Homo sapiens: one gene and its partner. The protein of the gene in region 1 purifies or fractionates together with the protein of each later gene. This does not show direct contact. Each region holds a gene or a part of one and is shown in the gene's direction. Other genes may lie near its edges.

The links.
Region 2: the proteins of RHBDL3 (region 1) and EIF2AK3 purify together in Homo sapiens (affinity purification with western blotting, with the first as the bait; one study listed by BioGRID). This does not show direct contact.

The regions. Positions count from the first base shown.
Region 1 is NC_000017.11:32,321,024-32,325,046, forward strand, and holds the end of RHBDL3 (rhomboid-related protein 3), read left to right. Parts: coding exon 1-206; coding exon of another isoform or gene 207-379; 3' UTR 380-3,636; downstream 3,637-4,023. UniProt on the Homo sapiens protein: May be involved in regulated intramembrane proteolysis and the subsequent release of functional polypeptides from their membrane anchors.
Region 2 is NC_000002.12:88,556,241-88,558,852, reverse strand, and holds the end of EIF2AK3 (eukaryotic translation initiation factor 2-alpha kinase 3 isoform 1 precursor), read left to right. Parts: intron 1-916; coding exon 917-1,117; 3' UTR 1,118-2,112; downstream 2,113-2,612. UniProt on the Homo sapiens protein: Metabolic-stress sensing protein kinase that phosphorylates the alpha subunit of eukaryotic translation initiation factor 2 (EIF2S1/eIF-2-alpha) in response to various stress, such as unfolded protein response (UPR).

The DNA.
Region 1 (4,023 bases):
ACCCAAGCTTTGTGGCGCACTTGGGTGGCGTGGCCGTGGGCATCACCCTGGGCGTGGTGGTCCTGAGGAACTACGAGCAGAGGCTCCAGGACCAGTCACTGTGGTGGATTTTTGTGGCCATGTACACCGTCTTCGTGCTGTTCGCTGTCTTCTGGAACATCTTTGCCTACACCCTGCTGGACTTAAAGCTGCCGCCTCCCCCCTGAGGGCTGGAGGCCCAAGGTCGGGGAGGGGAGGGAAAAGCAGCACCCACAGGGAGCGCCTGCGAGGTTTCTTCTCATCACCAGCTCAGCTAGGCCGGGCAGACAAGGACAGAAGACTCTGGGCCACTGTAATGTTTGTGTTTAGATTTGGACACACAGTGGAGACCCTTTTCTGAAAGGCATCTGGCGGAGGAGTTGATGTGGCTGCTGTCGTTTTTCTCGGCTGCTCTGATGACATCGGGCCAGGGTGAAGGTCTGGGGTGGGGTGTGAGAGTGGCCCTCCCTCACCTGGGCTGGGCTTCTTCCATGGGGCCAGGGGGTGCCCCCTCACTGCTGCGGATTGAGCAGCAGCTTCTTCCTCCTCCTCTACCCTCAGAGACCCTAAGAGACATGGGAAGGCTCGAAGGTTGTTGCGTCCAGGCATGGCCCCTCTCTAGCTCAGAAATAATTGCAGGCCATGTGGTGTCTCCTTGACACCTGCTGTGTCTGGGGCTCCAGTAAGAAGAGGGCCTACTGGACATGTCAGCTGTGACCTGGCTGAAACCAGGGTGCCCTCCTGGGCTGGTTGGTGTGCACCGGGGCATGATCTGTTGTGCCTGGGTTGGGCAGAGCAGGGAGCCTGTAGGCTCTAGGACCCCTCTTGTGCTGGGGGTACCCAGTGAGAGGGACCCATGCAGGGGGAATAAACTTCATTCCAAGTTCCACCCTGGAGAAGACAGACCCAGGACCAGCTTCAGACTTCTCCCTCCCTTTCTTCCAGGATATTGGCATCTCACACGGGTGCCCCAGCCTCCATGCCCAGCCTTGTTTTAGGGTCTTTTTCTTTCCTTTTGCTGCCCTGACACTACTTTGTGCCTCTCTTTGGTTATGGAGACAGTGTTTTGAAACATTCATGCGTGTGTGTGTGTGTGTGCGTATATGTGTGTATGTGATGGGAAAGGTAACTGAGGCACGACAGCGCCTGCAGAGAAGGCATGGAGGATGCAGGGGGCCCATGTGGGCATCCGTGAGAGGTGGCAGACCGTGGTGTGCTGTGGTTGCTGAATGTCCTTGCTTTGACAAAGCCTGCCCCCTTCCTTCCCATCTCCTGTCCCTTCCACACCTGCCCCTGAGCATCACTGACCGGTGGCAGAATGGCCCTGCTGGAGGGAGAGCTCAAGCCCTCCAAGGATCCCTGGATGCTGAGGTTTGCCAGGTTCAGCTCTTGTTTCCGTCTGAGATGGCCTTCATATCCAAAAAGGTTCCATCCTATCTCCCTTAGGAGAGAAAGAGCTTTGGGGGCGCAAGAGAGGCTGGGGTAGGAATGTTGAGGCCATGTGTCCATTTAAGTTAGGGGGACAGGAGGCTACAGGAAGAGGAATTCCAGTTTAGTTGGAAAACTTTGCCTCAGGAGAATTGTTGGGTGCATGGATGAACCTCAGAGGGAGGGCAGCCAGTAGCCTCGGAGGCTTGGATGCGGGAGAGAACATGGTGGTTATCAAATCCACCCCACCCCATTACACAGGTGAGAAAACAAGATGGAGGGAATGACCCTCCTAACAGGAGCTGGTGCAGGCCCCGAATGGAGGGCATGAGGATGACCTTTGACAAAAGATGACACTCCCTTTATCGTGCTCTTGGAATTCTCAACCACTGACAGCCCAGAAGAACAAAGAACGCCAGGCCTGGGAGGAGGCAGGGGGGCTGGGCGTGTCCAGAAACAGGGGCAGGAGTGTGGGAACGGTCTTCCTCCAGCCTGGTGCCCATCCTGGCCCTTGAGTGTAGCAGGGTCCAGGGTCAGTCAGGCCAGGCATTTGGGGTCTTGGGCCACAGTGGCTTCCCATCCTGGTGACTACATGTAAATGGGCTCACTCACTCACTGGCAGGCGAGGCCCAGCCATACCGCATCTTGGCCCACTGCTAAATAGATTGCCCTGGCCTCATCCACATATGTAGTTCCCTAGGTCCTGCTCCCCTGCACCAGTGCCATGCTGAGGGCCGCAGCCTGTGGCACTGTGGGCCCACGCCTTTGGCGGTGTTGCGTCAGCCTGGGGCGTCTTGTGTGTGCCCTGCCCACCGTTCTCTGCCCTAGTGATAGAAAGATGTAGATGGAAGTCAGTGCCTCAGAGGAGGAGGCTCTGAGGCTGTGGAGCTGGGCTCAGGGAAGACCAGGGGAGGATGCAGAAGGAGTCAGGACATTGCTGCCTCTGCCTGGGCTGCAGCCGCACTAAGCTGAGCGATGAGGTCCTTTCCTGGAGGGATGGAGAATCCCCTCCAGATTCCTGTCCTGGCCCCTGGGGATTCTGTGGTGTGGGTGGAATGAGCAGAGTGCCACCTCTGTCTGGTATGACCTGGAGAGGGGGCTTCCTCTCTTAGGGGTGAGAAAGCATTGAACTAGAAGATTCTAGAAATCCCTCATAGAAGCACTCAGCTCCCTCGGGGACTCCCAGGGAAGCTTGTTACTGAGAAGGACAGTGGAGGCGGAATCGTGTCTCCCACCATGTTAAGTGTGTCCTCTGCTGCCAAGGACCCTCGTCTACACCTTAGACCACCAGCCCCAGCTGTTCTCTGTCAGCACACCCACCTCCATCCCCTCTCCCAACCATGACTTCCAAGCGGGGCCACAGGGTGGGGTCATAGGGTCACTTCACCTGACCCAGGCCTCTCCCCAGGTCAGGAGGCAGCTGTCTGGTCAGAGGGGTTCTCTTTGTGGCATCTGGCTTTCTCCTCAGCAGGTCCCACCACCCTCTCAGCAGCACTTCCCCATGGCCAAGGCTGGCCGTGTCCTCTGTGCCTCTTTCCTTGTCTGAGGTGGCTGCCAGCCCAGGGGGTGGTGTGTAAATCTTCAGGCTGGTGGAGGTAGGTTGGCCTTTTATCCACAGGATACAGAAACTGAAAGCTGGGGAATCCCCAAACAGCAGCCATAGACTCACTGGCTCTCATTAAACGGGAGAGGAATCACAGAAACTGGGGAAGGGAAAACAAACCTTCAAAGGAGAAATTTCGCTTTAATGACACCATTCATCATTCGTTTTTTAATTAGGAAAAGCTCCCTAATGAGGCTCTTTTGCCAGCTAATAGGACTCTCGATTTCCATGAGAACCATTCTTGCCCAGAGGATTAGGGGAGCTGTTGCTCACCACACCAGGATCTTCCCCCAGCGTCCAATTTAATTTGCAAATACGTAATGCAGATTCCCTGGGTGCCGTGAAAGCCTTTCCTGGCATCATTCATGTTGCTCCCCGTGCTGGCTGGAAAGCACGGTTCTCCTCTGCCTTAAAAACAGTGCCCAACAGTGAACTGCCCCTCCGAGGACTTGAGTAAGTGGAAAAAACAAAACACAGACTGCAATGTTTGTTTCTAAGTATTTTTGTATTGTGTACATTCTGTATATTTTTGTTGTAACATATTATTTGAGCACAGATTCCATTAAATATTTTTTTTCTTTTTCCAAGCCATTGGTTATTCAGGAAGTGACCTGAAGGGCTGGCATTAGGGCCTGTTTCATCTGGGTCTGGGTCAGGATGGGTGGGAGAGGGTGAACAGCAGCGGTGGTGGATCCAGGATTTCTATAAAATACAGATTGGGGCATCAGTGCTTAGCACCAGTCTGTAGCTGTGTGCATCTTACTTAACTTTTCTCAAATCACTGAACTCTTTTGAGTGGTTGATGAAAGCTGTGATTTCTCTTCCCATAAAAATGTGTATGTAGGACGGGCATGGTGGCTCACGCCTGTAATCCCAGCACTTTGGGAGGCCGAGGCGTGTGGATCACCTGAGGTCAGGAGTTCAAGACCAGCCTGGCCAACATGATGAAACTCCGTCTATACTAAAAATACAAA
Region 2 (2,612 bases), on another chromosome or scaffold:
AGTCGACTCAGTTTCCCCTATTTTACAGATGAGGAAGCCAAAGGTCTAGAGAGGAAAGAGACCTGCTCCCAAGAGCCCAGAATTTGTTAAAACCAAACACTGGAGCTGGGGCCTGGCTCCTTCAGCCTAATGTCCAGTGTTCCACACTGTAGCACCTGTGAAATTTATATATTGATAAATCTTGAATTTCCTTAAGTAATTAAGTTGAAGTGAGTTAGTATGTGTTCATTTTCAAATTGGAAAAAGTCAAAATTTATCTTTCAGTATTATAATGAAGGGTTGCATTAAAAAATGGACTTTATAACAATATATTAATACCTACATATACTTAAGTCTGTTTTACTAAAAATTGTCATCATGTATTTTGCAAACTTGATGAATCTATTCCCAGGGTGGCTCATAAGAGTACATGTTACGTTCAAAGAGATTTTTAAAAACCAAGAAAAGGTGTTGGTTGCTGATCTCTGCCATAATTTTTTCTAATTAAAATTTCTATTGAGATAATTGTAGATTTACATGCAATTATAAGATGATTTTTAAAAATCATATTTATGTTTCAGGGATGTGATTAAATAATCCTTTATAATGTGTTAGAAAATCAAATTACCCAAAAATTGTCCATGTTTTTTTGGAATGAGGGTTGGCAAACTAGTGCCCACAGGTCAAATCCAGCCTGCCACCTATTTTTATAATAAAGTTCTATTGGAACACAGCCATGCCCATTAATTTACAAATTGTCTCTGGATGCTTTTGTGCATTGACGGCAGAGCTGAGTAGTTGTATCAGAGACTTGAAAACTCGAATATGGCTCAAAAGCTTAAAATATGTACAGAAATATTTTGCCAGCACTGATTTTAAAAACTGTACAGTGATCAAACCTGGCCGTTTTATCACAAAACAATTTTTATATTTTCAGTACGTGATGGTTCAAGACATGCTCTCTCCATCCCCCATGGAACGACCTGAAGCTATAAACATCATTGAAAATGCTGTATTTGAGGACTTGGACTTTCCAGGAAAAACAGTGCTCAGACAGAGGTCTCGCTCCTTGAGTTCATCGGGAACAAAACATTCAAGACAGTCCAACAACTCCCATAGCCCTTTGCCAAGCAATTAGCCTTAAGTTGTGCTAGCAACCCTAATAGGTGATGCAGATAATAGCCTACTTCTTAGAATATGCCTGTCCAAAATTGCAGACTTGAAAAGTTTGTTCTTCGCTCAATTTTTTTGTGGACTACTTTTTTTATATCAAATTTAAGCTGGATTTGGGGGCATAACCTAATTTGAGCCAACTCCTGAGTTTTGCTATACTTAAGGAAAGGGCTATCTTTGTTCTTTGTTAGTCTCTTGAAACTGGCTGCTGGCCAAGCTTTATAGCCCTCACCATTTGCCTAAGGAGGTAGCAGCAATCCCTAATATATATATATAGTGAGAACTAAAATGGATATATTTTTATAATGCAGAAGAAGGAAAGTCCCCCTGTGTGGTAACTGTATTGTTCTAGAAATATGCTTTCTAGAGATATGATGATTTTGAAACTGATTTCTAGAAAAAGCTGACTCCATTTTTGTCCCTGGCGGGTAAATTAGGAATCTGCACTATTTTGGAGGACAAGTAGCACAAACTGTATAACGGTTTATGTCCGTAGTTTTATAGTCCTATTTGTAGCATTCAATAGCTTTATTCCTTAGATGGTTCTAGGGTGGGTTTACAGCTTTTTGTACTTTTACCTCCAATAAAGGGAAAATGAAGCTTTTTATGTAAATTGGTTGAAAGGTCTAGTTTTGGGAGGAAAAAAGCCGTAGTAAGAAATGGATCATATATATTACAACTAACTTCTTCAACTATGGACTTTTTAAGCCTAATGAAATCTTAAGTGTCTTATATGTAATCCTGTAGGTTGGTACTTCCCCCAAACTGATTATAGGTAACAGTTTAATCATCTCACTTGCTAACATGTTTTTATTTTTCACTGTAAATATGTTTATGTTTTATTTATAAAAATTCTGAAATCAATCCATTTGGGTTGGTGGTGTACAGAACACACTTAAGTGTGTTAACTTGTGACTTCTTTCAAGTCTAAATGATTTAATAAAACTTTTTTTAAATTAAGTATGTTGACTCTTATTTTGAGGAGTTAGTCCCAAAATGGTAGATTTTCTAATTTATAAAATGGGATCATAGATCTAGGAAGAGTCATAAACCTATCCTCAAAAAAACTTCTTCCTAACCCATTTCAGACAGGTATCTTTTTCATCATTTCCCAAAGACTTGGCAGGCCCTTTCAAAATTCACAAGATCCATAATTGACAGACATTTGCCCAGTACCTACCCTGTGCCAAGGACTGAGAATATAGAGGACTTTCCCCTAAAGGGAGAGCTCTCAGAGAAAAGGGCTGTGGTGATGCTAGTTGTATTGATACCGAGGTGTATCTGACATGTGCCACATCGAGGCATGTGGCAGGCTGGGCTGATGGGGCATGAACCAGCTAGACACAATCTAGAAAGGTCAAAATGCATAGCATCTCCATATTACAAACAAATAATGTCTGCCACGCAAGGTTATGAGCAACTTGTACGCTGGAAAAACACTTCCCAGATCTTTGTGGCTG